Homo sapiens: one gene and its partners. The main gene of each other region encodes a partner of the protein of the gene in region 4 in a complex. Links are inferred from orthologs where the notes say so. Each region holds a gene or a part of one and is shown on either strand. Other genes may lie near its edges. The genes, in order: CLTA, GIPC2, TOM1 and MYO6.

What was found.
Region 1: the proteins of MYO6 (region 4) and CLTA are in contact, whole or in part, in an NMR structure (PDB 6E5N), measured with the Homo sapiens proteins. Residues at the interface, in NP_001355794.1 of Homo sapiens: Met1053, Thr1054, Pro1055, Met1058, Ala1059, Met1062, Ser1087, Trp1089, Lys1090, Tyr1091, Glu1113, Arg1117, Leu1118, Val1120, Tyr1121, Trp1124, Asn1128; in NP_009027.1 of Homo sapiens: Glu47, Asn48, Glu50, Ala51, Phe52, Ile54, Leu55, Asp56, Gly57, Gly58, Ala59, Pro60, Gly61.
Region 2: the proteins of MYO6 (region 4) and GIPC2 are in contact, whole or in part, in a crystal structure (PDB 5V6H), measured with the Mus musculus proteins. The link is inferred for Homo sapiens from one-to-one orthologs. Residues at the interface, in NP_001034635.2 of Mus musculus: Ser1055, Lys1056, Trp1057, Lys1058, Tyr1059, Arg1084, Arg1085, Leu1086, Val1088, Tyr1089, Trp1092, Lys1093, Asn1096; in NP_058563.1 of Mus musculus: Glu255, Leu256, Tyr257, Met258, Gly259, Ile260, Asp262, Asp264, Leu265, Thr268, Thr289, Leu290, Asp292, Phe293, Ala294, Pro296.
Region 3: the proteins of MYO6 (region 4) and TOM1 are in contact, whole or in part, in a crystal structure (PDB 6J56), measured with the Homo sapiens proteins. Residues at the interface, in NP_001355794.1 of Homo sapiens: Ile1182, Phe1184, Trp1202, Gln1214, Glu1216, His1218, Asp1220, Lys1221, Pro1222, Ile1224, Leu1226, Glu1234, Met1235, Cys1236, Leu1238, Glu1242, Thr1243, Gly1244, Leu1245, Arg1247; in NP_005479.1 of Homo sapiens: Ser440, Glu441, Phe443, Phe446, Leu447, Arg450, Ala451, Ala453, Ala454, Asp455, Leu457, Pro458, Asn459, Leu460, Ser461.

Annotation. Positions count from the first base shown.
Region 1 is NC_000009.12:36,186,611-36,194,258, forward strand, and holds the start of CLTA (clathrin light chain A), read left to right. Parts: upstream 1-4,310; 5' UTR 4,311-4,446; coding exon 4,447-4,663; intron 4,664-7,648. UniProt on the Homo sapiens protein: Clathrin is the major protein of the polyhedral coat of coated pits and vesicles.
Region 2 is NC_000001.11:78,041,621-78,048,965, forward strand, and holds the start of GIPC2 (PDZ domain-containing protein GIPC2), read left to right. Parts: upstream 1-4,345; 5' UTR 4,346-4,474; coding exon 4,475-4,714; coding exon of another isoform or gene 4,715-4,864; intron 4,865-7,345.
Region 3 is NC_000022.11:35,295,336-35,303,384, forward strand, and holds the start of TOM1 (target of Myb1 membrane trafficking protein), read left to right. Parts: upstream 1-4,558; 5' UTR 4,559-4,593; coding exon 4,594-4,645; intron 4,646-8,049.
Region 4 is NC_000006.12:75,744,978-75,752,238, forward strand, and holds the start of MYO6 (unconventional myosin-VI), read left to right. Parts: upstream 1-4,261; 5' UTR 4,262-4,446; intron 4,447-7,261. UniProt on the Homo sapiens protein: Myosins are actin-based motor molecules with ATPase activity. Unconventional myosins serve in intracellular movements. Myosin 6 is a reverse-direction motor protein that moves towards the minus-end of actin filaments.

The DNA of each region.
Region 1 (7,648 bases), on a different chromosome or scaffold from region 4:
GGCATGAGCCACCATGCCCGGCCCTCATTGCAAACCTTTTTTTTTTTTTTTTTTTTTTTTTTGAGACGGAGTTTCACTCTTGTTGCCCAGACTGGAGTGCAATGGCGTGATCTCGGCTCACCGCAAACCTCCGCCTCCTGGGTTCAAGTGATTCTCCTGCCTCAGCCTCCCGAGTTAGCTGGGATTACAGGCATGTGCCACCACACCCAGCTAATTTTGTATTTTTAGTAGAGACGGGGTTTCTTTATGTTGGTCAGGCTGGTCTCGAACCCCTGACCTCAGATGATCCACCCTCCTCGGCCTCCCAAAGTGTTGGGATTACAGGTGTGAGCCACGGTGCCCGGCTGCAAAGTTTTCTAATGTCTTCTACATTTAAATTTGCCCTCACTTCTCATTCTATATTAGGCAAAATTCTTTTTTTTTTTTTTTTTTTTTTGAGACAGAGTCTCACACTGTTGCCCAGGCTGGAGTGCAGCAGCGTGATCTCGGCTCACTGCAACCTCCGCCTCCTGGGTTCAAGCGATTCTCCTACCTCAGCCTCCTGAGTAGCTGGAATTACAGGTGCACACTACCATGCCTGGCTAATTTTTGTATTTTTAGTGGAGACGGGGTCTCACAATGTTGTCCAAGCTGGTCTCGAACTCCTGACCTCAAATGGTCCACCCATCTTGGCCTCCCAAAGTGCTGGGATTATAGGCGTGAGCCACTGTGCCTGGCCTGGATTAGGCAGAATTCTTTATGACAGAAACACAACTCAAAATTGTCTTAAGGGGAAAAAAAATAGAATTTATTTGTTCACAGAGCCAAAAAGTACAGAAGTAGATCTTTCACTTCAAGCATGGCTGAATCCAGGTCCTCAATGATACCAACAGGAAGTTGTCTTTCTCACTCTCTGCATTCCTCCATGTTGACCTCATTCTCACTCTCAATCTCTCCTCTTGATGACAAGATGACCACAAGAAGCTCTAAGCTTACACTTTGCCTGCTTGTCAGCTCCAGCAGAAAGAGTTAGCTCTTTCCCTAAGATTCTAGTAACAGTCCTGGAATTGAGCCTCATGAGCCTGGTTTGACTCACTTGTCCATTCCCAATCATTTGGGCAGGGAATGGGATGTTCTAATTGGCCAGGCCTGGGTCACATGGGGGTGGTCCACTCAATCCAAACCACAAAACTGAAAATGAGGAAGAATGGTTCCCCAAAGGAATATTGGAGTGCTGGTATCAGAACAAAGGGAATTGGATGTAGGCAGGCAGAACCAACAGATGTCCACTATGCTTCCATCCCTCAACCTAGTGCAAACTGATTTCCACTCCTGGCATCCACTGACATCTCTCTCACCAAGGTGACCAGGGAACTTGATGGCCAAGAGCATCTGCTCAGCTCTCATTCTTCACCTTTCTGCTAGTCACTCCTTCCTTCTGCAAACTCTGCTTGACTTCCATCACCCAGCTCTAACTGAACCCTCTCCAATCTCTCTGACCCACCCCTCTACCTCCTTCACATATAGCCATCCTCCAAGATTTAGGCCTCAGTCCTTCCCTCTCTAGTCTCCATCTGTGGTCCCACTCTCTCCTATACACACTTCTGTTGGGAGCCGAAAAGGCCAAAGGGATCGTGACCAACTCAGCATTCCACTGGAGGCTATATGATCAAACAGCAAACTGTTTATCATGAATGTAGGATGTGAGCAAACACACTGCACCTGCCACCAAAAGGTTTGCTGATGGACATCACTCCTTGGTGCAGGGCTCCTTGAAGTTATCTAAGAAATCTAGCACCTATTGTTCAAAAGATGCAGTCTCACAAGCCTGCTGTGAACCAAACCTCTAACTGACAATTACCGACAATCACCCCCCCTTTCTCGCTCTCTTTTGCCTACGAAATACGGAGGGATGTGTAAAACTCAGGGCCCTTGTCCACTAGAGGCAAAGTGCCCCCTGACCCCTTCTTCCAAATATACTCTTTTGTCTTGTCTTTTATTCCCATTGCCCACCCACCTTTGTTCAGTCCACCAGGGATCATGGCAGGCTACACACTTCTAGTTCCTGGACATCTTCTAAATCTTCTGTCTCCCAGCAATCACCTGGGCTCCCCCAAAGCCCTCAAACTAATGGTTCTGGCAATTTCACAGATTCATGATTTATGACCCCATCCTTTCCCCTTGCCTTTTTCCCAGCCCGTACCTCTGGTCGGTCACCAAGTTAGTCACTTCCCTACTGGGACCCGCTTTCCCATCAACGCTCCCCACTCAGCTCCATACCTCTGCCCTGCCCAGACCTTCATCATGTCACTCCTGACATCTCTGCCCACAGCCTCTGCCCCATCCATCCTGCAACCAGGGACCCGATTAACCTCCTAAGCAGCAGTTGATCAAAACATTCCTTTATCTGAAACCTTCTATGGTTCCTTATTGCCATTAAGATTCCTTAACATGGAATGCTTTCAGGGCTCCAGAATCTGTCCCCAGATTTTCCTTCAATTATTCATCTTGCTGAGCTCTTCAGACTCCAACTAATTTACTCACTGTCCCCAAAACATGCCAAACATTTTCCCACCTCTGAACTTTTACATGACACTAACATTAGACCCTCATTATTGACTCTTCTAAACGTTCCCCATATTTCAAAACTGAGCTCCAAGCCACCTCTGTGAAATCATCCGTAAACACATCAGCTATTCCTCCAATTTTGAGTGTATACTTGTTTGTTGCTTTTGCATAATATGTAATGCCTCCTCTAGCAAGGGAATCACAGGAGAGTTTCTCCCAAAGTCATGCATTTCCCCAAAAAGAATGCTGTCTGTTCCGGAGCTACTACTGTTGTGAGCAACTAAAAGTTGTCTTCCTTGGGCTCTCTCATAGTAGTCCCTGCCCCTCTTTTCCTCATGAGACTATGTCAAGGCTAATGTGAAAATACTTCATGCACTGTTGCCAATGTATGTTAGGGATGAGCATAAAACAACAGACAAGGGGAAACAGAATCAATTGCAGACCCTAACATTTTAACTTTCTTAAATGTTTTTCTTCAACACTTTCCTATGGTTCATACTTTAAATGACTTTAAAATTATGCTTTAAGTAAATATATGCTTTAAATAATTTTTATTTGCTTCATTTTTCCTTCATAGCTATCCCTTTTTTTTTGTCATCAAAGATATGTGCGTTTTTTATAAAAACACTTTCTTGTCCCCTGCTGACTACCTCTGGAAGCTTCTTGTTGACCTCTGGTTTTTTGGTTTCTTTTTTTGGCTTTTCATTTCTTAGGGTGGTGGTGGTGGTAGTGAAGGAGAGGGGTCTTCTGGTGGCCCCTGCATAAGCACTCCCCCTCAACATGAGCATGATTAACTGGAACCACTGTTATTTCTGTGGTGTAGACAAAATGAGCCATGTAGCTATTAACATCTCCCTGATTTAAAAAGAAACACGGAACTTTCTTTTTCCTGCTGTCCTTAGGGAGGAAAGGTGTAAATATAAGAGACTGTAGCTAGTATCTTGGAAGTCCCCAGGAGACAGGCGTTTCCTCTTGGTCACTGACTCTCTGGGTCACTGACGCTCCTTGAACAGCAGGGCCACCGTGTCTCCCTTTGAAGCAAGTGATCCTTAAGGAATTTTCCAGGTTTAGTAACTTCTGTCTAGCTCCGAAAAGACGTAATGGCTGCAAAAGTGCTTCGTTGAAGAAGATAAGATATATTCATTTTTAAATAAAAATACTTATGGGCGAGAAAAATCGGAGTGGACTGAATCAATTACAGTAAATCTATGGGCTCTAAGGGAGCAAATAATCCAGGCTGGCTGAAAGAATTAAATATTTTAAATTTATAAAGCCAGGGACCCTCAAATCCATAAAAGGATTCAATCTTCTTCTTCTTTTTTTTTAGGATTCAATCTTCTAATAATCCCGGGAGGGGGCGCAAGAGCAGGATTCTTGTTTCTATTTTACGAATGAGGAAACTGAGGTTCAGAAAGCCTAAGTGGCATGCCTCTTCAGTAATCGGCCAATCGTCGCTGCCCTAACTTCACCTCACCTCCCAGTGCAGCACTAGAGTCCCCTCAGGGGTGGCCGTCCCTGGTCAGTCCAGCTCCAGCAGACGGGGTGGGTAGGACGCTCCCTATCAGGCAGCACTTCCGCCTCCCGGGGCCCGCGCAGCTCACCTCCCTCACCTCCCGCCCTACCCCAGTCACGAGTTGTTTTAGGGGGACCGCCCCTCCACTTGCTGATTGGGTAGCTCCTGAACCATTGTTGTCCTCTGATTGGTTGTTCCCTTTTCGGCTCTGCAACACCGCCTAGACCGACCGGATACACGGGTAGGGCTTCCGCTTTACCCGTCTCCCTCCTGGCGCTTGTCCTCCTCTCCCAGTCGGCACCACAGCGGTGGCTGCCGGGCGTGGTGTCGGTGGGTCGGTTGGTTTTTGTCTCACCGTTGGTGTCCGTGCCGTTCAGTTGCCCGCCATGGCTGAGCTGGATCCGTTCGGCGCCCCTGCCGGCGCCCCTGGCGGTCCCGCGCTGGGGAACGGAGTGGCCGGCGCCGGCGAAGAAGACCCGGCTGCGGCCTTCTTGGCGCAGCAAGAGAGCGAGATTGCGGGCATCGAGAACGACGAGGCCTTCGCCATCCTGGACGGCGGCGCCCCCGGGCCCCAGCCGCACGGCGAGCCGCCGGGGGGTCCGGGTGAGAGTGCGGGCGCGTTTGGGGCGAGAGGACTTGTCTGGAAACTCGGTCCACAGTGGGTCCGAGAGCTTCTGTGTGACTCGTGCTCCTTGCTGAATTAGGAGGTTAGGGAGCAGTGCAAACAGGAAACGAGACCCTGGCCCGGTCTTTCAGAAACCTAGGCTCGAGAAGCCTGTTCGGTTCTCAGCATGTTTGAGTGCTTCTGGGCGCGGGCGGAGCGAGAAAGCAAGTGTAGGGTGGCAGGCTCCGGAGCCGGAAGAAGCCCGTTCAATTCAGCAACTTTTCATTAAGCATTTGCTGTGCCTTTAGTCCGGTCTCTGAAGCAACCGCATTGGCGCAGTTTTTCCAGACTTATAAGCTTATAAGTCTGAGCCGAGCACAGAACTCGTTATTAGAAAAGGAGGGCGGAAAAAAATAAGAATGGAAATATCGTTTTTGAGAGATACAAACAAAAGTAGCAATGCAGTTCAGCATTTAAGCACTTAAGGTGTACAGAGTGTTGGATTACGAGGAGGAAGGAGGGAGTAGGGAACTCGAAAGATGATCTAGGTCTGGAGAAAGAACTGCCAAGCGCGGTAGGAGTTTGCTATCGTTGAGCGATTGATTTACAGCTAGGACTTCTGGAGCTCTTCCTCTGGGAACAGCTTTGGTAGGCAATATTGCCTAAGCAGAACCCAAGATTAGCCTAAACCAATCAGGGAGGGATGAAGAGGTGAATAGAGAATGTTCTCAGCCAAACTCAAGTAAAAATGGGGCAGGTAGGATGGCAGTTTGACCTTTGGATGCCTTAACCTGTGTGTGATGCTTAGGATCATGAGTGGAAAAGACCTACTTAATAATACAAAGAAGTAGGAAATTTAGCTAGAAGAAATGAAATACGGCTTTTCATTCACTTAAAAAATTCCAACTAAGGGAGAATAGGGCACTACTGGGGCATATAGGAGTAGTGTCTACCCTAAATTCAAACCTTAAGGAGCCAGGTAGGTAACATATACGAGAGAAGCTGGCTTGACATGAGACAGTAGAAGTGTTGGAGACTGAGGCTTTGCTGCACTATAGTAGTGCTCTGTGTAAAGGCATTCAGATCCAGCAGTCTCAAGTTACTGTGCCAGCCAGGCGGAACCTTTTGATGGATGGGTTGGTGGGTGTGCTGCTAGTTTGCAGCCTCTTGAGTTTTTGACTGCACCATGTTGCTTCCTAAACAAATCAGTCCCCCAATAAGAACTTAGTGGGAACATGTAATATGCCCGAATATGCAACTTTATAGCGGGTAGGTTGGACTAAACTAGGCTGTGATTGTGAGATGAAGTTGGCCTTAAGTGATTAGGGGATATTTTCATTGGGTGGTCTCTAACATTTGTCTGAGAATTTTAAAATTGACTTCTTAGACCCTTAGTTTAACCTTCCTCATTTAATAGAAGAGAAGCAATCCTAGAGAGAAACGACTTGCTTAAAAAAGCACGAGTTAATAGCTGAGCCCCAAGTCTACCCACTCTTAGAATATACCACATTCTGTTGCAGTGTTTAGTTGTTTTAGCAGGGGTGTAGTGCGATAACAGACAGGCAGCTGTGGCTGTCCCAGGTGGAACAGATTTGGGAGAAGCAGAACCCAAGATCTGTAGTTGGAAGATTGTCCTGATTCAAGGACAGTGTTACCCTTACTGTTTTATCTCCACTGCCTAGCAGTGTGTCTGACATGTAGTAGATGCTCACGTTTGACAAAGAAATGGGCAAAAATGTCAGATCCAAGGGTCCTATGTAGAACTGACAGATCTTGGTGACGGGCAGTTAGGGAAGGTAAAAGGGAGAGAATAGAGTTGGATGCTCGGTCCTTTGTGCATCAAGCCTTCGGCAAAGGGAAGGAAAGAAATGGTTGCTGACTTAGTTCCTAGGAGGGACTTTCTTAGTGAACTAAGCATTTGGTGACTTAAAGCCAGATTCCTGACAGTGTAATTGAAGTTGGTAATATGCAGTGGTCAGCATTTCCTTTGGAGTTTAGAGAACTGATTGGACACTTTTTCTCTCTTAGTTTTCTTTTTCCTTCTTTTTTTTTTTTTTTAAAGATATGCTCTAGTGGTTAAGATTCTATGCTATCCTAAACTGCTTGAGTGTGAGTTTAGCTTTGTGATCTCAGACAATGTATATAACTACCACCACTGCCCGGCCTCAGTTTTCTCCTTTGTAAAAGTTGCATAATATAATTTATAATGCTATGTGGCATCTTTAGGATTACATTAAAGAGTGTCTATAAAGTGCTTACAGTTATATTAAGTATCTAGTGAATTCCAGCTACTATTAGTGGGAGAAAGGAGTTACAAGGCCTTTAGGCTTTGAAGTGTACTGAGTAAATTGAGGTTTTAGGCGGGAGCTCTCTTTCTGATGTATTATACAGAGATATATAGGCAGTCAGCTATGACAGATTGATGAGAGGAAAATAAACTGGCCCCAGCCTTGCGGAAAGCGTCTATGGAGGATGGGCACAGGCAAAAACCAGAGGGGTTAGGGCTAAGCCTTGGATGACTCCTTTGGTTGTTAAGAGATCCAGAAAAGAGACGTAGGTTTAGAGGCAGGAAGAAACCAGCTGGGTGAAGTGATATTGAGGTAACCAGCTGTGGGGGATATTGAGGAAGAACAGGTGGTCATGAAGGAGGCAGCACAAGTGGAGCTGTTGAAAAGCTCTCAATCATGAGGGCTGAGTCGGGGAAGAGAACAGGAGAGACAAGCCACAGAGAGAGTACAGCAGTAAGGCACTATTATGGTGTTTTGTTGTTTTTGAGACAGTCGCTCTGTCACCCAGGCTGGAGTGCAGTGGTGCGATCTCGGTTCACTGCAACCTCCGCCTCCTGGGTTCAAGCAGTTATCCTGCCTCAGCCTCCCGAGTAGCTGGGATTACAGGCGCCCACCACCGTGCCCAGCTAACTTTTTGTATTTTTAGTAGAGACGGGGTTTCACCATGTTGGCCAGACTGGTCTGAAACTCCTGACC
Region 2 (7,345 bases), on a different chromosome or scaffold from region 4:
AGCTCCTGAGAGCTGATTGTGTACAACATTCCCAACTCTGTTTAGAGGTGTCATGTAGATAGCTGGAACTCAGCCATGGTGAAGTATTTACACAATGAAAATTAGCAAAATCGAGGCTTTTTCATGAATAGCTGGTTAAACGATTACCAGCCCATCACTAGCTGTTAACATAAATAAACAAAGACTCATTGCAGTCCTATAATACATATATATTTTTGACATGGGGTCTCAGGTTGAACTCAAGGTTCTGGACTCAAGGGGATCCTCTGGCCTCAGCCTCTCAGGTAGCTAGGACTACAGATGCCTGTTACCACGCCTGACAGTCCTTAATTTTGTGTGTGTGTGCGTGTGTGTGTCTCACTCTATCACCCAGGCTGGAGTGCAGTGGCATGATCTCAGCTCACTGCAACCTCTGCCTCCCAAGCTCAGGCGATCCTCCCACCTCAGCCTCCTGAATAGCTGGGATTACAGGCATGCACCACCACACCTAGCTGATTTTTTTTTTTTTTTTTTTTGGTATTCTTTTGTAGAGACAGGGTTTCACCACTTTGCCCAGGCTGCTCTCGAACTCCTGGACTCAGGCTATCCTCCCGCCTTGGTCTCCCAAAGTGCTGGGATTACAGGCGTGAGCCACCGTGCTGGGCCTCAGTCCTTAGTCTATATTTGAAAATTTTATTTTATTTTTTATTTTTTTGAGACAGTCTCGCTCCGTTGCCTAGGCTGGAATGCAGTGGTGAGATCTCGGCTCACTGCAACCTCCACCTCCCGTGTTCAAGCGATTCTCATGCCTCATCCTCCAGAGTAGCTGGGACTACAAGCGTGTGCCACCACGCAAGGCTAATTTTTGTATTTTTAGTAGAGACAGGGTTTCGCTATGTTGGCCAGGTCCTGGCCTGCCTCTGCCTCTCAAAGTGCTGGGATTACAGGTGTAAGCCACCACGCCAGGCTTCAGTCCTTAATTTTTAACTGTGTAAAAGAATTCTGAGACCAAAAAGTCTAAGAATCACTTGGTACAGTGATTGCTTATCTATGGAGCGAGAAAGTCTTACTAGGGGAAAAATTAAAAAAAAAAAAAAAAAAAGGGACTTTGGACTTCCAGACACTCGACCCTATCAAATCTTTTGCAGATTCATACTGTTGCCTTCACCAAATGCCACCACTGCCATTCTCCCATGGGGGTCATTGTTGACCCAGTCTTTCCCCCAAAGACCAAGAGGGTCTGGGGTTGAATGATGAGCTTCTTCTTAAATTTGAAGAGCCCAAAGGCTGCTAGGAAGGAAGGGGCTGCAACCTCCCCTAGCAAACACCAAAGATCTATCACCTTACGTCCTATAGCTACTTGTGGACAAAAAATGGAACTTTAAGGTACTGCTAGGAAAAGAATGGCATCAGATCAAGTTTTCCAGATAATGGATTCCAACTCCAGCAAGTGGGATAAGAGGTTCATGACACAAATATATTTGTATTAGGTGAATCAATCACCAGGATACCAAGATCGGTTACTTTCACAAACTGCTCTGAGGCAACTTAAATACGGAAGGAACTTCAGAGCCAGCTCTTCGGCTCCAGGCTCCTTTTTAACTACTTATTGTGGTGTGGAAAATATCAGCTTGCTGAGGATTTATCATCTTAATAGAGAGCTCCTTGGGAAGGAAAAGGGTGAAATTTAAAAAAAGGATCTTCATTAAAGAATAGGGAGTTGATTATGTTGCAGAATCGTATCTTCTTGTTTTGCGACACGTTGGAAACATAAACTTTAGAGCTTTTTCATCTCCACTGCACAGAGGTCTGATTGCTTCTGTTTAAAAATGGGGATCTGCTGATGGATTTCAGCCAGCTTCTTCAGGTCTATGTCTGAATACATGATTGTTTCTTCCTTGAGAGCCCTAGCAGCAAAGGTTCACTACAGTGCTGTGTCCCCAGGCAACATAGGAGGCTTTGTCATCTTGGGCAGGAGAATGTGGCCACATACACCTGATTATCAAGAGCCTGAAGCAATTCCCAGTGGGCTGGTCCAGTGGTCAAACTGAAAGCCCCTGGATAAACCAACAGCTGGCAGCCTTTCCGTGTGTAGATTTGTGCAAGCTCTGCAAACCAGTGTCATAGCAGATGCCCCGACTCATTCTGCAGTAAGGAGTATCAAATGTGGAGAAACTGTTGCCTGGACTCAACATTGTGGATTCTTGAAACGTCATTTTTCCAGGAACACCAGTGTTAAGCAGATGGACCTTTCTGTGCTTTACTAGTAAAGTTCCATGAGGTGCAAACACAGCATAGGTGTTATCTAATTTCCCAGCATCCTCTTCAGGGATGGAACCTCTAGTGAGGTTGTATTCCTTTGCTACTTCAGAAAGCTTCTGTGTGGATTTACCAGGAATTTTCGCTGCATATTCAGGAAAATATTTTGTGCCATATGGAGAATTAAAGCATTCCAACAAAGAAACCATTTTGGCTCCTTGCGTTGCTGTCTCCCGGACAAGGCTACAAGCTCGAGTGTTGTTATCTGATTTGATGAAGAAACTTGAAGCTGGATGAGGGCCAAGTGGAAAGTTGCCCTGGCTCTCCTGGGAAGCAACAGCAGCAGCACTGGCTGAGTGCAGGTGTCCCTGTATTACTTTTCTAAGTCACAGAAACATAAAACAAAAATGTTAAAGTTATCCTAAAGTTTTTTTTTTTTTTTCATCTCGCTCTGTTGCCCAGGCTGGAGTGCAGTGGCACAATCTTGGCTCACTGCAACCTCCGCCTCCCGGGTTCAAGCGATTCTCCTGCCTCAGCCTCCCGAGTAGCTGGAACTACCGGCATGCGCCACCACGCCCGGGTAATTTTTGTATTTTCAGTAGAGACGGGGTTTCACCATGTTGGCCAGGCTAATCTCGAACTCCTGACCTCAGGTGATCCGCCCGCCTCCACCTCCCAAAGTGCTGGGATTACAGGCGTGAGCCACCGCGCCGGCCTCCTAAAGAATTCTTAAGACTCTCCTCCCCCAGTACATCTGCTAACCTTAAGTTGAGAAATATGGATTTTCGGGACTGAATTGATGTGAGAGGTGAGGGAAGAGGAAAAATCCTGATACGACGACTCCACAATGTCTGGTCTGGGAGTGCTTGGTGATCCTATTAACTGAAATCAGGAGTAAAAAAAAGAAAAGATAGATGCAGGAGAAATGATGAGGTCAGTTTTGTTCAGTCTCAATTTGGGTTTCCTACAGTACATTCCCTTTCTGGTAGAATAAGCTGGAGTTGGAGACATTTGGTAGACAACAACGTCTGTGAAACCGAGAATGTTGATGTGACCATACAGGAAGAACATGCAAAGCTAAGTAAGAAGGGAAGTTTGTCGAGGAAAAACTGTCGGTGAATGCAACTCCTGGAGACTAGCAGTTAGCAAGGAGCAGGGTGGGGACGGGGAGAGGAGAGGTAAGGAAGCCAAAAGAGGACAAAATTTAAGAAGAATGAAATGGGCAACGCAGACCAAGTAAGATAAAAACCTAAAAGAATTACTTGTATTTGGTAATTAAGATATGATAGTGATTTCACTCCACTGAAATTGCATAGTAAGTGAAATTTCAGTAGTGTGGGGGCAAAGTCTGATCACAGTGCTTCTAAGAGCAGAGAAGTGAGGAAATTTCGTAGCTAATAATTCAAGACTGTTTTGCTTTGTTGTAAAAAGCGTAGTTGGAGGGGACTGGACTTGAAAACAATGCAATAAACGCGAGGTAGGGAATTGAGGGAACTCACACTTCACACCGAATGGCCTCAATTTTCTTTGTACTATATGAGGCAAGGTCCTCTGTAGAGACTAAGAAGGGCAGAGCTGGGGCAAATGGCTTTGGAGGCGTGCTGAATGTTGGGAGAGGAAGCAGCCCAGGAAATAGGCAAAAGGGAAACTCAGAGGTGCCAAGGACCCGGCTGAGGGGGTTTATGAATACAACGTAGCACCAAGCTCAAGGTTATGTGACTTTCTCTTCCAATTCTGCCCTGCAGAGCGTAAGACGCAGAAAATGCAGACGAAGGTTGACTTCTACTTAAATCCCTATCCCCGAAAGTCCAGACGTACGGACCCGAAGGCCTGTGGCCAAATCATGCGTGGGTGCCTACTACAGATTTATGAAAAGCAGAGAAGGGCCAGCGTGTTTGCCTTCTAAGGCGTATTGTTCTGTAGCGTCGGCATCCTCAGGCGTTCACGTAAATAGAGCCATTTTTTACAAGGAGTAGGGATAAACCTGGTGATAGGATGAGGGACTACGTAACTTTCTTTCTCTCCAGATCCATCCCGGGGGAGGCTGGGCGGGCGGGCGGCTGCTCCGGTCCAGGGGTGGAGGTCGGGGCCCTGACCCGACGCAGCCAGGCGGAAGCGCGGCTGCCATTGGAGGCTGCTTTTACCTGCGCGGGGCCCGGGGCGCAAAGTCCGAGGCGCCGGGGGGAGGAGGCGGCGGACGGCAGCGCAGGTGGGCCCGCGCTCTCGGCCCTGCAAGATGCCCCTGAAGCTGCGGGGGAAGAAGAAGGCCAAGTCCAAGGAGACCGCCGGGCTGGTGGAGGGCGAGCCGACGGGCGCGGGCGGCGGGAGCCTCTCAGCGTCCCGGGCTCCCGCACGCAGGCTGGTCTTCCACGCGCAGCTGGCGCACGGTAGTGCCACGGGCCGAGTGGAGGGCTTCTCCAGCATCCAGGAGCTCTACGCCCAGATCGCGGGCGCGTTTGAAATCTCGCCGTCGGAGGTAAGGCGCCAGGTGCTCAGGCTCTCCCGCCTCTCCGCCGCGCCGCGCCGCGCCGCGCGTATTTCTGTGGGCCCAGGAGGGTTGAGCGGCGTTTCCCGGAGCGCGAAATCCGATGCCGTGTTGAGTCCGCCGGGGGCGTCCCGGGGGAAAGTGAGTGTGCCTTCCCTGGAAGGGAAAATTTAACTTGGCAGGACCGCAGAAAGTCACAGTCCCCCTTGCTCCGAGATCTGGCCTTTGGGAAGCGGGTTGAGGGAGGCAACCTTTCTTCCGCTTGCAAATGTGTTTGCTCCAGATGTCCCGGATTCCGCCGGCCGTTCAAGGCGTGAGCACCTTCCCAGACTCGAGATCTGGCGGGGCAGATTAATACCCTCCACTTCATCTGGACTTTACTCTCCTGTTTCCTCCGCAGGCGTGAGAGTCACGCAGGTCATCTCCCTAGATTAACGGGGGAAAAAAAAAATAGAAGTGCCTTGCAGGTGATACCCAGATTAAGTGGGGGGGAAAACATTGAAGAGCCTTCCAGGTAATACCAAACGGAGGCCCACTTTCCCCCAATCTGTCATTTCTAACATCAGCACCAGAAACCCTTTGGTGGTATTTCCAAGAAGTTTAAAAAGCTGGGCTGTTATTCCAAGAGTGGATAACCTAGAGATTCATACTTAATCACGTGGGACTAGTTAACAAAATTTTCATGAGGAAGATCAGCTCTTTTACATCGTATCCTTAAAAAGGGACTGAAATTTGCTTTAATTAGATTTCATGGGGGCCTGGAACTAAGTTTGACACAGGCATGACCTAAAGCACTAGTTTATGTGAACGTTTATGTGACCACTTTATTTGTGCTAACCCAAGTGAACTGCAAAGGTAGGTGTGAAAAGTTAGCTCAACAAAATATTTTGTCCACATTTCTAGGAAAAGCATATAATTTTGTTGCCCTGGACTCAGAGGAGTGCAGAGAGCTGTCTTTGAGGCCTACAGCGGCACCTGGAGTTCTTTAATTAGTTGTTTATCAGGTCTGTTCAAGGGAAATTGAGGTCAAGGCAAAATTCCAAGAGGAGACGAAAGAGAGCTTAAAGTGTAACCCTTTGTTCTTTCGAAGTTCCCAGGCACTAAGGGGCAAATCGCAAACCCATCTGTGAATTATTTGTATTGATATAGGATACTAATAATACTTCACATTTATATAGGATTTTTTTTTTTTCAAAAAACACTTTCACAGGACACTTTCCTTTGATCTCTAGGGGAGGCAGGTGGCAGGTTAAATACGATAACTTGGACATGGAGCCAGGTTCTACCCTTTACTAGCTGTGTGGACTTGAATGAGTTTAACTTCTCTCAGTTTTCGCCATCTGTAAAATAGAGATTAGAATATTTGTCTTGAAGAGTATTGTGAAGAGTGGAGTCCGTATGTAAACGTATCAGATTGCATAGTTTATGGTTAGGGCTTAATACATGGTAACTAATATGATTAATACCTAACAGTTAAATGAAGGACTGAAGTACAAAGTGATTGGCCCTTAGCCAAGGTCACATACCTAGCAAAAAAAAACTTGACTGTAATTTAAACTTGGATCTTCTGATTCCTAAGCTAGTGAGCTTGTTAGCATACTTAACTGACAACTTTAAATGTCTTTGCTGTAACCAGGGACTTCAGTTTTAGTTACAGATGGTCCTGGGTTTATGATAGTTAGACTTAAGATTTTTGACTTCGCCATGGATTTATTAGGATGTAACTTCCTGGACTTAAGATTTTTCCACTTTATGGGTTTATTGGGGTATTAAATGCATTTTTGACTTATGATATTTTTGACTCACAATGGATTTATTGGGACATAACACCTTGGTAAGTAGAGGAGCATGTGTATTTTGCATTAACACTTCTCATCATTATATATGACATTATTCTGAGCTCAAGGTACATGATTTTATTCAATCTACTTAATCCCTAAGAAGTAAGTATTATTATTAATATCCCCACTTCACAGAGAGGAAACAGACTTTGAGGTTCAGAATTTTTCCAGAATTACACATAGCAAGTGGCAGAGCCTGGATTTGAATTCAGTGTATTCTTTTTTTTTGTTTTCTGTTTTTCTTTTCTTTTTTTTTTAATGAGATGGGGTCTCACTCTGTTGCCCAGGCTGGACTGCAGTGGTGCGATTATAGCTCACTATAGCTTCAAACTCCTAGGCTCAAGCAATCCTCCTGCTTCACCCTCCCAAGTAGCTGGGACTACAGGCATGTGCCACCACATCTGGCTAATTAAAAAAACTTTTTTTTAGAGATGTGGTTTTTCTGTGTTGCTCAGTGTGGTTTGAAACTCCTACTCTCAAGTGATCCTCCTACCTCAGTCTCTTGAATAACACAGACACGGAGCCATTGTGCCCATCTTTTTTTTTTCCTCCCATGAAGCTATATTGTTACCCAAGTTTTCCAGAGTCTCAGCAATAGCTTGGTAGCCACGTTCAACATTTTCAGTGCACTGACTTGCAAGGTCAGTTTCCAAGATAATATACACGAGTTGTTTTCATGTGTTAGATCAAAGTTTATAACATTTTATAACCCGGGTATATGGGTAAAACCCCAGTTTTACCATGTTTATGCATATAACCAACATTAATGCAAGTTTTCCAT
Region 3 (8,049 bases), on a different chromosome or scaffold from region 4:
TTGTTTGAGAACCAAAATCAAGAGGAACAGAAATCTTAACTTGATTTCATGTGTTAGAACATTGTACCATGCCTCTTCTGTATCTGTGGAAGTTTCCTGTTTGACACAGGGTATCTAGGAGGGGCGGGGAAGACATGGATAGTATAGGAAGACATTAATCCTAGCATTGTCATTTATATACATTAATGAAATCCTGATGAGGACCTGCTTTTTGTTTGTTTTCCTTTGAAACCCAGCCCTATTGTATTTGTATTTAAAATTTGTACACATTTGTATAATAATCTGTACCTTGTGGTATTTGGTACTATTAGAGGAAAAACTTTGGATTCAGACCTTCTTGCAGTTTTTATATCATTGTTTTATTTTGTTTTTTAAATAAATTCTAGTGGTTTGATCCAAATCCCATTACAGTTGTATAAAGAAATAAAATTTTGTACTTATATTATTAAAAATCACATTTTTAATATTTGTAGTCCAGTCTCAGCTGTCTTTTCCCTAATCATGATCATCATAGTTGCTATGAAATTATAAAACCTGTTTTTCACTCTATTCTACCATAATTTTCTTAAGAAAAAAATCAACCCACAATGGAGATTAAATTTCTAATCTTAGCCATTTTCTTAATATACTCCTTACTCTGCTTCTATTAACTTTTACATTGTAGAGGTTCTCATTTTCTCTTTTGCAAATTGCAAATTTAGTGAATCTGATAATTCCACCTCCATTTATTGGCAAATGAAACTATGTGCATTATGGTGTTGGCCTAAATCAAGAAAATGTTGATTAATCTTATATAAGGGTTGCATCTGAATCATGTGCTAAATGATATGTTTCAGTACTGTCCTGTTAGCATTACAGTAATGCTGTTGATAAGTTACTTAATCTTTATAGGCTTCCAAAGTCCCATCTATAGAATAGTGTTAAAGTCACTTCCCTGTCTGTAGACCTGCAGCCAGCCAGCCTGACATGAATGTTTAATAACATTATGAACACTGAATATATGGAGATATGACCTTTCAAGGTAAAAACTTCAGTGCAAACACAAGGTGTTAAAAGTCATAAATAGTAAAATAATATGATTAATTACAAGGCTAATGTCTTATGGAAAGGCAGCAAGGAAGAGACTACCGTATCACTGAGTGACTATTAGAGTGATTTGCATACTTTGTCTCACTCATCCTCCGCCCAAAGCCTTAAGAATATTATCTCCCTTTATAGATGCGAAAAAGTACTTTTCCTAAGTTTATACTGCTAGTAAATGGCAAAGGCAGATTAAGAACAGTGAAACAGCTGACCCCAAACCCTAGGCTCTTTTCTACCCCAAGCTACTTTCAGATTTAAATCATGTCTATAATTCATCAGAATGCTTTCCATTATCTCAAGTCCTGAGCGAATGTGATTGTGGGAATGCTGTCTCAGATCTTTGCATTGTTCGGGTATCTAGCTGGCTTTCACTCTTGTCATACTATTGTCTTTAAATTTTGAAGGCAAGGTATCTTGATTTTTGTCTGTAAGCACTTAAAGGATTTAATAGATTACATTTATGCAGACTGTCAATCTTAAGAAATTTGAACATTTTAACCCTCAGTAAGGCATGATATTAATTTTACTAAAACACTTAAAAAGTAAATTGAAACACTTTTTACTAAATCAGTTTGCTCCTTATTAGCACACTTTTTAAAGACAGTTTTAATCAGTTTTGTACTAACTTTAATGTTTGCCATTTACATCCCTATCTACTATGTTGATAAAATCCATATACTGGCCAGGTGCAGTGGCTCGTGTCTGTAATCCCAGCACTTTGGGAGACTAAGTCAGGAGGATCATTTGTGGCCAGGTGTTTGAGACCAGCCTGGAGAATATAGCAAAACCCCATCTCTACAAAAACTAAAAGATATTAGCCAGGTATGGTGGCATGCATCTGCAGTCCCACCTACTCAAGAGGCTGAAGTGGGAAGACACTTGAGCCCAGGAGATCAGGGCTACGGTGAGCTACAGTTGTACCACTGTACGCCAGCCTGGGTGACAGAGACTCTGTCTTTAAAAATAAATAAATAAATAAATCCATATACTTCCATTTCTGTTTCAATAGCTATATAGTAATCAGTTTGCATGGAGTTGTTTTTCTTTTTTTTTTTGAGACGGAGTCTCGCTCTGTCTCCCAGGCTGGAGTGCAGTGGTGCAATCTCTGCTCACTGCAAGCTCCGCCTACCAGGTTCACGCCATTCTCCTGCCTCAGCCTCCCGAGTAGCTGGGACTACAGGCGCCCACCACGGCGCCCACCACCACGCCCAGCTAATTTTTTCTATTTTTTTAGTAGAGATGGGGTTTCACCGTGTTAGCCAGGATGGTCTTGATCTCCTGACTTCGTGATCTGCCTGCCTGGGTCTCCCAAAGTGCTGTGATTACAGGTGTGAGCCACCGTGCCCAGCCTGCATGGAGTTTATGATTCCACTTCCTGTTTGGGGGCATATGAGTTGTCTCTGTTTTTGTTTTTTTTTGTTTTTTTTTTTTTTTTTTTTTACCATGAATAAAGTTTACAAGAACTTGTTAAAAGCTTAAAGGAAGGGCCAGAGATGGTGGCTCATGCCTGTAACCCAGGGCTTTGGGAGGCTGAGGTGGGAGGATCACTTGAGCTCAGAAGTTCAAGGACCAGCCTGGGCAACATAGTGAGACTTTGCCTCTAAAAATAAATAAATAAAGGTTAATGGAAGAATCCAAAAGAAGTTCATGCTAAACATAACTCCATATGACCAAGCAATAAGGTTAAGTGAAGAAAGACATGGAAAGTGCCTTGACCTGAAGGTCATCTTAAATGGCCTTCTCCCCGCTTATACTCCAAATACCATTACTGAAACGTAGATCTATTTAAGCTTTCATGTGCTAGTTACTGGGTTAGACAATAGTGGGGAGCAAAACAGAAATAGTAGCCCAGCCCCCAGGGACATCCAGACTCGTGGGGGCAAAGGCATTTGTGAACAGGTCTCATGAGTGTTGTGGAAACACTTCAAAGCAGTTTTTATATTGTACAGTAAAGACATCGGACCCCATGGCTGCTCAAACAAGTGAATCTACAGAGGTGATTAAGTTCTAATTTAGGTTTGTTTTTTTTTTTAAGACACAGCCTTACTCTGTCACCCAGGCTGGAGTGCAGTGGCACGATCTCAGCTCACTGCAATCTCTGCCCCCCTGGGTCCAAGCAATTCTCATGCCTCAGCCTCCCAAGTAGCTGGGACTACAGGCGTGTACCACCACACCTGGCTAATTTTTGTATTTTTAGTAGAGACGGCATTTTACCATGTTGGCTAGGCTTGTTTTGAATGCCTGACCTCAGGTGATCCACCTGCCTCAGCCTCCCAAAATGTTGGGATTACAGGCGTGAGCCACCACACCTTGCTTAATTTAGGTTTTCTGTCATCCAAAATTTGTGCAGTCAATTTACTAGCCTTTCAGATTTAAAAACCACAAACATCACAATAAGTACTTAAGCACCCACAGTAGCCAGACTACTAAGGCCATGGTTATTGTATTTTTGGAGTACATGCCAGAAGAAAAGGTCATAACCCATAGATAGGTATCTAGTGTGTAGGTGTCAGCAGACACACCACACACAGCCAGGAAGGCTGAAGAGATTAGAATCACAACGCTGGGAAAGGCCTTTGAGATTCTTAGCTTGGGGTCCACGGTTGTACTTCAGGGACCCCAGAAACTCCCTGAGGTTATAAGCAAAATTGTATCGCTGCCTTTTTTCTTCAGAAAGGCTCATGGCTTTTGTCAAATTCTCAAAGGAGACTGTGACCTAAATAAAATATTTTTTAAAAATGGTTACGAGTCCTTGATCTAATTCCAGTATCTAGAGAAAATGGGAGCTATGTTTGGCTCACACAGTAAATTTATGGCAGAGACGGGTATTAAAGCCCCACTCGTGACTACATCTGTGCTTTTTGCCATCCTGGGCGCTAGAGGGAATTGCGCTGCAATTCATTAAATTGCCTCTCAGTCTCAACAGATGACAAACCCCTTGCCCTTGCCTCTGATTTAAGGTAAGATAATTTGGGCTGCGAGCAGGGTGCATCTTGGAGCGGGGAGACCTTGACATCAAACAGGAAGAGTCTTACCGGGACAAGGAGACAACAGCCCAGAGAGGCTGTCACCCAGGGTAGGTGTGCAGTCACAGTGAGGTCCCAAGGACTAAGGGCTATGACCCTAAGAGTCTCGGCTTCTGTGTAACTCACCCAAGTCACTTCCCTGGTCTACGACCCAGTTTCCCAAATGTGTAAAGGGTCCTTTAGACCTCGCCCTAAAAGGTCAGGGGCGTGGCTTAAAGAGGACCGCGCTTCCCGGGCCCCGACCCCAGACCCTACATCGTGTGTGACGCCCGCCGCCGCCGAGCAAGCCGCAGTGAGGTCATCGCCCTCCGCCTCGGGGGCGGGACCCTGGCGTCTCAGGGCGGGGCTTGTGGTCGAGCTTCGCGGTGCCACCGCCCCGCCCACGCCTCCTCGCCGGCCTCCGAGTGCGTCACGTGACGGGTCGGTGGCGCTGGCGGTTGCTGTCAGCTGATTCCCGGGGTTGGTGGCAGCGGCGGTAGCAGCAATGGACTTTCTCCTGGGGAACCCGTTCAGCTCTCCAGTGGGACAGCGCATCGGTGAGTCCCTGGAGCCCCCCACAGCTCCGCCCCGGTGCTCCGCACCCAGCTTCGGTCCCCTGGGAAGCCTCCGGGTGCCTAGTCACGGAGGCAGGGAGGGCAAGGAGGCTGGCGTGTAGCTCTCCGACCTGGCTCCGCCCAGCTTTCCTCCCACTCTTGATTGACAAGAACTTGGGCCATTAGGAAGCCTTGGCTTGTGATAGATGTATATGACAGCCAGTAGGTAAGGAGAGAGGGTGGGTCCGGATGCCCACGGCGCAGCCAATGTGCGTCTGCTGGGGTCCCCAATCGAGGGAGAAAGTTTTCGTGGTTAAAGGGACTGCGTGGTTGGCAGTGGCTGGGCCACTCTGCTGGGTCCCGCCGCCTGGGCTCTGGCCAGCTCCTTCCTGGCTCACCGGGCCCTCCGGACACAGACACCTGAGAAGGGCTAGAAGTCCCTTCTCCCAGGACCGCGAAGCCCCGGGCTTGGCGTCTTGGGGCCAACTGGCCAGAGGGGCCCAGCGCCGGACAGCCCGCGGCCAGGCCTCACAGACCCGGGTCTCAGGACGTGTCCGCCTGGGCTCTTTTCTCGACCCAACCTCAAATGGACCCGCACAGACTCTCAGAACCTGAGCAGACAGTGGTCGGACAAACCCTCCTGGTCAGCCCATCTCGGTGCTCCGTAGGTGGGGCAGCCGGGAACTCGGGCCAAGCCAAGCCCAGGGCACCTGGCGCCTGTCTGCTGGTCCGTGGTTCTCTGCACCCTGGTGACAGGATACTCACAGTTCTGTGACGCAGCCTCCCTGGGCCGAGGTTTCCTCACCTGTAGTTGGCGGGCAATAATGGTCCCCACCTCCGTGGGCTTGTTGTGAAGATTAAATTCCTTAATAAATGTGAAATACTTAGAACAATGCCTGGTACATGGCCAGTGCCATATAAAAAAAAACAGTTGTAATATTTATTATCACTGGGCTGGGCACGGTGGCTCCCGCCTGTAATCCCAGCACTTTGGGAGGCCAAGGCGGGCAGATCGCTTGAGCCCAGGAGTTCGAGACCAGCCTGGGCAACATGGCGAGACCCCGTCTCTACAAAAAAAAAAAAAAAAAAAAATACAGAAATTAGCCGGGCGTGGTGGTGCGTGCCTGTGCACCCAGCCACTCGGTAGGCAGAGCTGGGAGGATTTATTGGATCTGGGAGGTCAGGGCTGCAGTGAGCCCTGATGGCGCCACTGTACTCCAGCCTGGACGACGCAGGGAGAGCCCATCTCTTGAAACACATACACATACACACACACACACGCACACATATATATAAAAATATACACATACAAACATACATATACATACACATACATATATATTATATGTATTTACACACACACGTTGTTCCTGAGATCACCAAGTGAAGGTTAGGAATCCCTGGAAATCGCTTGGCAGTAGATCTCATAGGTGCTCATTCTTGGGCACCAACACCATGAGAACCGACATGCCTTCACCCAAACAGCCACACTTCTCCGGAGGATGGTTTGGGTGTTCCGCATTCTTGCATGAAGAAACCATCGCATTACCGTGAAATTACTCTTCATCTTTTTTGATGACGACTTTTCGTCTTAAGTCCAGACTGGGAAAACTTTAAGATGAGACATATTTTCCATTCTTAGTGTCTTGCGAAACCTCACGAAAGCTTGTCGACCCGGCTCTGTGTTGTAATCGCCACCGTGGCTGTCGGTGGCTCTTCCGAGGTTTTGTAATCAATGCTCTCCAAGGGGGAGGTGGCAGTCCAGGATTTACACACCAGGAAGCTCCTGAACCAGGGAGAGGAACTGCCCTCTCAAAGGACCCCTGCCCTCCCCGGACACACACCCACCCCACAGTGAGTCATGGTTTTTTGGAGCTGAAAAGAGAAGGCAGCTCTCCTCTCATCTATATTTCTCTGACTACAGAAACCACTGCTTTTATCACATGCCAAGTTTAAGACTTACTACTTAAAAATAAACAAGTAAATAAAAGACCTGGCTTCAAAGTCAGCCACATACTCTTAAGGCTTTCTGGAAAAGCTCACCTGGGTTCTGGATTTCAGCTAATCAAAGCAAACTTCTCTTCTTACCTTGAAGCGTTGCCTTTCTTGGGCAAGAAATACTTCTGTGCAAAGAGAATGCTACTAAATCATAATACCTTAAAGCACAAATGGAATTTTGCAGGTAAAAGAGCCTTACCTTGGGGATCTTCTAACCCAGTGGTTCTCATCAGAATTCCTAGGAGGGCTTGTTAAATAATGTCGGGGCCCCAACCCCAGAGTTTCTGACTCTCCAGGTCTGCGGTGGGACTCTAGAATGTGAATTTCTTTTTTTTTCTTTTTCTTTTTCTTTTTCTTTTTTTTTTTTTTTTTTTTTTGAGACTGCGTTTCGCTCTTGTTGCCCAGGCTGGGGTGCAATGGCACCATCTTGGCTCACTGCAACTTCCGCCTCCCGGGTTCAAGCGATTCTCCTGCCTCAGCCTCCCAAGGTAGCCGGGATTACAGGCACGCTCCGCCACACCCGACTAATTTTGTATTTTTAATAGAGATGGGGTTTCTCCATGTTGGCCAGGCTGGTCTCAAACCTGAACAGGTGACCCACCCACCTCAGCCTCCCAAAGTACTGGGATTACAGGCATGACCACCGTGTCCGGCCTAGAATGTGAATTTCTGTTGAGTTCCCGGGTAATGCTAATGCTGTTCCAGCCCATCCCCTTCATTTTACACTGGCGGAGACTAAGGTCCAGAGAGGGGAAAGTGGAGGCTGTGACTCATCCAAGACCCCAGTAAATTGACAGCAAAACTGAGTCATTGAAATTTAAACCAAAGCTGAAGAGGCTCCAAAAGTAGAATTAAGAGTTTGAGTTAATCCCCTCAGTATTCCATATTCTTTTAGATAAAGAGGCGGAGGAAGTACTGCTCCCTGGCTGTGATTACTGATGACACAGTATAGCTGCTTATAATTCTGTAAACCAGGCCCCTCCTTGCTGCAGGAGTACCATCTCTTCTCAAGCCTGCCGACTCCCATGCCCTTGTTGATAGTAGAGCTGTAGAGCCATATGGAATTGACATCCCTCAGATGGTGATTCTAATGATGCTAATCAGGAATGAGTGTCAGTCACTGGAATCACAAAGTTCTCATCCACCTCCCCTCCCAACACACACACACACACACCCCTTTGTGCTTGCTGGTCCCTCTGCCTGGGTTGCTTGCTCCTGTGCCCCCACTGAGGAGCTCCAGATCACCCTTCAAAGTACAGGGCATCATCACCTCCTCCCTGAGGCTTGCCCCAAGCCCGACGTTGCTCTTTTACTCTCCCTTTATCCTAGATCCTCAGGCCCCCTTGCCCTATGACTTTGGGCTCTGAATCTCCGCTTCCTCCTTGGTAGAATGTTACTAACAGCATCTG
Region 4 (7,261 bases):
TGGAGTTTTGGATAACCTTTCTATACTGTGATGTTTATATATTTTAATGAGTTAATTTTAGGTGAAATTGTAATTCTAACTTTGCATGTGAAATCAAGTTCATATACAATAAAGCTTGCCTATATAAAAAAAAGGAGTTGGTGACATAGATGCAGTTGAAGCTGTCAAAGCGGATGTCAGCCAGGGAAGGTGTAGAGACCCTCACACGCCTGTGTTATCTATTCCCACAAAAAAGGAGAAATGAAACCACAAAATTTTGCATATGATTTCAGGGGGATTTGTGGAGTTCCTATCTATGATAAAGGATCCGTGGATCTCAGTTAGAAATTTCTGGGATGGCACAAGAAGATCCAGGGAAGGGTCTTACAAATATTCAATGAGTGACAGCAAAGCTGAAAAACTTAGTCATGTGCCAAATAGTGACACTTGATCAATAACATGGCATATACAGTGGTCCCATAGATTACAATACCATATTTTTACTGTATTTTTTCTGTTTAGATACACAAATACTTCCCATTGTTACAGTTTTCTACAGTATTCACTACAGTAATAAGCTGTACATGTTTGTAGTCCAGGAGCAACAGGCTATACCATATAGCCCAGAGAGTAAGTTATACTATCTAGGTTTGTGTAAGTACATTCTACGATGTTCACACAAAGACAAACTCATCCAATGATGAATTTCTCGGAATGTATCCCTATGGTTATGTGATGCATGACTGTAGAGATACGGAATAACTTGTTGAGTTTTTGCAACAAATAAGATGAGTTGTATCCACCATGCTTAACTACAGCACAAGCAATTTTTCTTTTTTGAGACAGGGTCTCTCTCTGTCACCCAGGCTGGAGTGCAGTGGTGCGATCATGGTTCCCTGCAGCCTCAACCCCCCAACCCAGGCTCAAAGAATCCTCCCACCTCAGCCTCCTGAGTAGCTAGGAATACAAGCCCAGCCAATTTTCTGTATTTTTTGTAGCGATGGGGTTTCACCATGCTCAAACTCTGGACTCAAGCGATCAGCCCACCTTGGCATCCCAAAGTGCTGGGATTACAGGCATAAGCCACTGTGCCCTGCCAGTGCATGCAGTTTCTTACAAGTGTCAACTCTCTTGCCAGTTGTTCATCCATCTGTCCCATTTATTCAATAGTAATACTAATGGTAGGCACTGCTTAATGAATGACTACCATGTGAAAGCCACTCTGCCTGGCATTAGGGACACAAAGATTAAGTCCCTCACTATGACCTCAAGGAGTTTTACAGTCCAGTTGGAGGATACTTATAAGTAAACTTAAGTAGCAATAGTGAAATGTGTGTTTGAAGAGATATCTGCAATGGGTGTTAAGTGAGAAATGGGAAAGAGCACCAAAAAGCACCTAGGATTTGCATCAAGGGGGTTTAGGGAAAACGTCTTGGAGGGAACAAATAGGCTTTGTTCTGAAGGATTAATTGGATTTAGCTTGGCAATGTTCCAATGTAATAAATAGCATAGCCGTCTGTTCTGGGACACAAAAGTACTGCAGAATGACCTGAATATAAAGGACAAGAAATAGAGAAAGGCAGTGGGTAGAAATGAGATTGGAGAGGTAAGCAGGGCTAGGACACTGGATGCAAGTCATTCCAAAGACAGGCAGGTAACATTGTGCGAGGAAGTCTGGTTTAAAACAGACAGCTTTGTGAGTTTTGGACCGCAATGAATTGGGGACCTCATAACCAATGAAAACAAATTCAAATTTAATTAGAAGAAAAAAACATGGTCAGGCACAGTGGCTCACACCTGTAATCCCAGTGCTTTGGGAGGCCAAGGCAGGAGGATCGCTTGGGTCCAGGAGTTCATAATCAGCCTGGGCAATATAGAAGACCCCTGTCTCTATAAAAAAAAAAAAAAAAAAAACTGCCTGGCATGGTGGCATGTGCCTACAGTCCTAGCTACTCAGGAGGCTGAGGTGGGAATATTCATTGAGCCTAGGAGGTTGAGGTTATAGTGAACTATGATTGCACCACTGCACCCCAGCCTGGGCAATAGAGCAAGACTCTGTCTCAAAAAGAAAAGGGCTGGGCGTGGTGGCTCACGTCTGTAATCCCAGCACTTTGGGAGGCCGAGGCAGGCAGATCACTTTAGGTCAGGAGTTCGAGACCAGCCGGGCCAACATGGCAAAAACTAATCTCTACTAAAAATATAAAAATCAGCCAGGCGTGGTAGTGCACACCTATAGTCCCAGTTACTTGGGACGCTGAGGCAGGAGAATCGCTTGAACCCAGGAAGCAGAGGTTGCAGCGAGCCGAGATCACACCAGTGCACTCCACCCTGGGAGACAGAGGGAGACTCTTTCTCAAAAAAAAAAAAAAAAAAAAAAAAGAGGAAAAAAGGAAATCCCCATTATGTTAGGCAAACAAAAACAGCCAGTTTGTGACTGGTGGCTAAATCAAGAAGGATCTTACAAGACATTTTAAGTGGTTTGGACTTTATATCAAGAGTCAGAGAGTGCCATTACAGAAATTTAAATAGTGGAGTACATAAAAGACAAACTGATGACGTTGTAAAGACTGGATTAGAAGGGGATAAAACTGCGGCCTGGGAAACTGGTTAGGTGACTTAGGCAGTATGCAAGATTTGAAATGATAGTGGCCTGAAACAAGATAGTGGTAGTGGGTATAAAGAGGAATTTGATACATTAGAGAGATATTATAGAGCCAGAAGCAAAAGCACTCAGTAATGGATTGGAAGTGTGGGGCAAAGGAGAGAAAACAATCACGAAAGTCATTAGCTACAAAAAAATCTTTAAAATGTATTGATTTATCTAGGTGTGGTGACTCACACTTGTAATCCCAGCACTTTGGGAGGCCAAGGGAGGGGGGCGGGCAGGGATTGCTTGAGGCCAAGAGTTCAAGACCAGCCTGGGCAACATAGCAAGCCCCTGTGTTTACCAACAACAAAAAAATTAAGAAAATTAAAAAAATGTATTGACTTCTATTGGTTTGCCAAATGAAGTTTAGTATTAAATCCAAAATTGAGTCAGAGCAGTGTGAACTGAGACAGCCATCTTCATCTTCTCCCTCTTTTTTTCAGTTTGTTTTGAAATTTAGTTTTATATACTTAAGACTTACCTTCTGGCAATTTGGAATTAAATTTCTGAGATTGCTGTAAATTATTTCCTTTCTTTGTTTCTCTTCCTCTTTCTTACTTCCCTATTTTACTCTTAATATTTTATTGTTTTAGTTGAATTCTAAAACATCTTATCAGAACTTAGAGTTTTTATTTCTCCACCCACAGAACCATGGAGTCTTTAAGTATCAGAAATTTGTCTCCTCGTCAGAATCTTCTAGATTTCCAGAAGTTTCCAAGTCGCTACATATAAATGTTGCAGAAAAACGTGTAATTCTCATGTGCAAGTAGGCTTTTTTCAGCGGATACATTTAGCATTATAGTCAATTGTTATTTCGTTGCCTTAAAAGAAGCTGTTTTCATTGTAAAGGTGATGTGTTTTTACCATATAATTCAAATTTGCATAGGTACTTCATATTTTAAAAGGTGACTCACAGGTATGTCACTAATAAAAACAGTAACATTTAAACGACTGAGAAGGTAGGGGCTCTAAATAAAGTAAATGCGTCGGCGAGGGTAGGAGCGGGAAGAGGCAAAGGGGTGCGAAATTCCCATCCCAAGCCCCCTCCTCCAAAGACCGAATGGCAACTTAGTTGTGCGGGAAGGTTCCCCCCTATGCAGGGCAGCCCAGTCCAAGCCGGCCCGATCCGGGGCCGAGTGAGCAGTGGTTCTTGCCGCAACCGCCACGCAGCCTCGCTGCCGCCCAAGCGCGGACACCTGGTTCCTGGGTCCCCCGCGCGGAGCCCCGGACTCCTCGCCCCTTCTCCGAACAACTTTCTCCCTGCTTGAACTGATTCTCGCTGTTGGTAGACTGCACAGTCACAGTATCCAGCCGGACAGGACCTGCTTTGCCGGGACTGGAAACAACTACCGCGGCAAAAGAGGCCGTTTCGCCATGGGAAGAACAAGAACTCCCGGCTTGTCCAGGGGCAGCCCCTCTCTGCGCTGCAGGGCGCCTACCCTCGCCCCAGAGGCTCTGCGCCGCGGGCGGGGCGACCCCGGGGGTCGCGCGCCCTCTCCCGGAGCGCGCCCTCCCTCCCGGAGCGCGCGCCCGACGGCCTGCCGCGGCCCCGGCGCCCCCGCCCCTTCGGGCGCTCCGTAGCCGTGACGTGCACGCCGCAGTGCCGGGGACTCGGCGGGGCGCCGGCCGGCGGGCGGAGACCGACTCGGGATCTGTCCGAGCAGGAAGCCAGCCTCAGCCCGGCCGCTGTCGCCGCCCTGTCCTGGTGCCCGTCCGCGTCGTCGCCCTCTTCACTGGCCCTCATCACTTCTCACCGCGCCCTCCAGCTTCACCCGTACAGGTAGCCCCGCCGCCGCGCACCTGCCTTCGCTCCCGCACCGGTGAGTGTCCCAGAGACCCACTGCGGGGCGTCGGCGCCGGGGTCTCGCGTTCCCTGGCCCGGCCTTGCTCCCGGGCCTCCTCGAGCAGCTCCGGGGCCGACGCTTCTGTTCACTGCCCGAGGACGCGGGTGGGAGAAGCAGGTGATGGATGGGTGGGCCCTGGGCAGCAGTGGGGCCGGCGGTGGTTCTCGTTTCCACCGAAAGACAATCAGTCTCCTTTCATGGGTTCTCATCACCAAGGTCCCTTTGTGTTTCTTCCCTGGCTCCCAGGTAGAAGCAGAGCACTCAGGTGCCTAACTCGGACTTGGACACTCCGTGATAGTTTTATTTTCTCTTTTGTAAACACGCTTAAAATTCAGTGCAGGGGGAGCGCAGTTTGCTCTGAGATGTGAAGATCAAATGATACCATTAATAGTCTAATCATGTAGGAGACCAGATCGAGACTTTCTAAAGCCTTATTCTTAGTCTCCAGGTGGTCCAGTACCTTGAGTATGTTAATTTACGGATATGCTACTGAACAAGAACTTTTTTTGTTAATTTCCAAAAACTCCCTAAAACGATTAAAATGCTTAAACTCTGGGATTTTAATTTTAAGTAGGACACAATTTGATGGGGTTATTGCTAGAACATCCGTGTTTAAAAGTATTTCCATACAGTTTAAAAAATTCATTACCTTTTTTTTTTTTTTTTGAGACGGAGCCTTGGTCTGTCGCCCAGGCTGGAGTGCGGTGGTGCGATTTCCTCTCACTGCACCCTCCCCCTCGCGGGTTCAAGCAATTCTCTGCCACAGCCTCCCGAGTAGCTGGGATTACAAGCGCCCACCACCACGCCTGGCTAATTTTTTTGTATTTTTAGTAGAGACGGGGTTTCACCATCTTGGCCAGGCAGGTCTTGAAATCCTGACCTCTTGATCCATCCGCCTCGGTCTCCCAAAGTGCTGGGATTACAGGCGTGAGCCACTGCGCCTGGCCAAATATTCTTTACATCTTACCTGGCATAAAGTGATGTGGTGGAGGGATGCTTAAATCCTGATTTACAAGTATTAGTGAGAAATGAGGAGCACTGCCCTAACTTAATAGACTTAACTGTACGGGCTAAATAAGCCTCATTTTTTTTTTTTTTTTAATGCTCTGGTGGTATAGATGCAGTCTATCTAAATAAAGTCAGAACTTGAGAGTTTTAAAAATTAACTTTTTTTTTTTTGAGACAGAGCCTCGCTCTGTCAGCTCACTGCAACCTCCACCTCCCAGGTTCGAACGATTGACCTCCCTCAGCCGCCCGAGTGGCTGGGACTACAGTAAGGGCGCGCCACTGCCCAGCTAATTTTTGTATTTTTAGCAGAGACGGGGATTCGCCATGTTGGCCAGGCTGGTCTCGAACTCCTGACCTCAGGTGATCCACTCGCCTCGGCCTCCCAAAGTGCTAGGATTACAGGCTTGAGCCCCCGCGCCTGGCCTGAAAATTAACATTCTTAAGATTTAGCTGAAACTTATCTTCACACCATAAAACGTGAATCTTGAACTTGGACTGGTAGTGGTCATGGTACAAAGGTTGGCGGCAAAACAGCATTTCTGTACAAATTAACTGAACTTCCTAGATGTCTTGGGTTGTGGTTTTCAAACTGGAGAATGTTTAGTGAAAAAATTACCTTTGTGCCTTTTTTCCTTAATTGTAGAAACCGCCACAAATGTTACAAAGTGGGCTATAGCCAGAGCTTGAAACCATGCTGCCGTTCAAAATAGCTCACAGACTTTTATATATACAGCTCATTTTGAGTATTTTACGTTACGCAGGAATTGCATCCACTTTGGTAAACAGAAGTCATTTTAGTCTTATGTACATTTGCCCATTATTTTTGTATTTTTTGTGTGACATGCTGTTTATCATTCTCTCATCTTTGTAAGTTACATTTTTGTTTTCAGAAACCATTGTAAATGTAACAGAAGTATGAATGACATTTAAGGAAAGATCATGATTAAAAACTGTATAATATATAAAACTATATATGATATACATATATATTCTTGGTTAGTGCCTAGAAACATGAGCAAGAAAAATGTTATGAACAATTACAATATTTAATGTAAATTAATGCAATTAAATATTGCATTAAAAACAAAAGATCGTAAATCATAACCAGTAGGGATTATCTGAAATGGATTTTTCCCTGTTTATGTTTACGTGGTCAAGTTTTAAAATAACAGTGGCCAGGAAATCTGAGAGAGGCTGAAGGCTCTGTTCTCATCCTGTTGTGACTTTGCCTGGAGTCTGTGGTGTATCATGTAGCCCATTGTTTAGACAACTGGGCTGTATCTGGGTTCCAAAATGTAGCTTTCTTTAGAAAGTTTTAAAGACTTTGACCATGTGAGGCTTGAACAAATGCAAACATCCAAACATTGAAAAAAACCCATTTTAACTTTCTGTTGATAGTTGAGACTCCATTTTTGACATGTAAAATACCAGTTTTAAGAAGAGTTTACTAACCTCTGTGTAGTTTCATTTTTATATATTAAAATATCTAAAAATATTGGGAAGTGTTATAACTTAAATAAATCTCAGAGTTTATTTATTCTTTTTTTTTTTTTTCTCTGAGATGGAGTCTTGCCCTGTCATCCAGGCTGTGCAGTGGCACGATCTTGGGTCACTGCAACCTCCGTCTCCTGGGTTCAAGTGATTCTCCTGCCTCAGCCTCCTGAGTAGCTGAGATTACAGGTGCCCGCCACCACACCTGGCCAATTTTTTATTATTATTAGAGATGGGGTTTCACCATGTTGGCCAGGCTGGTCTCAAACTCCTGAGCTCAAGTGATTTGCCT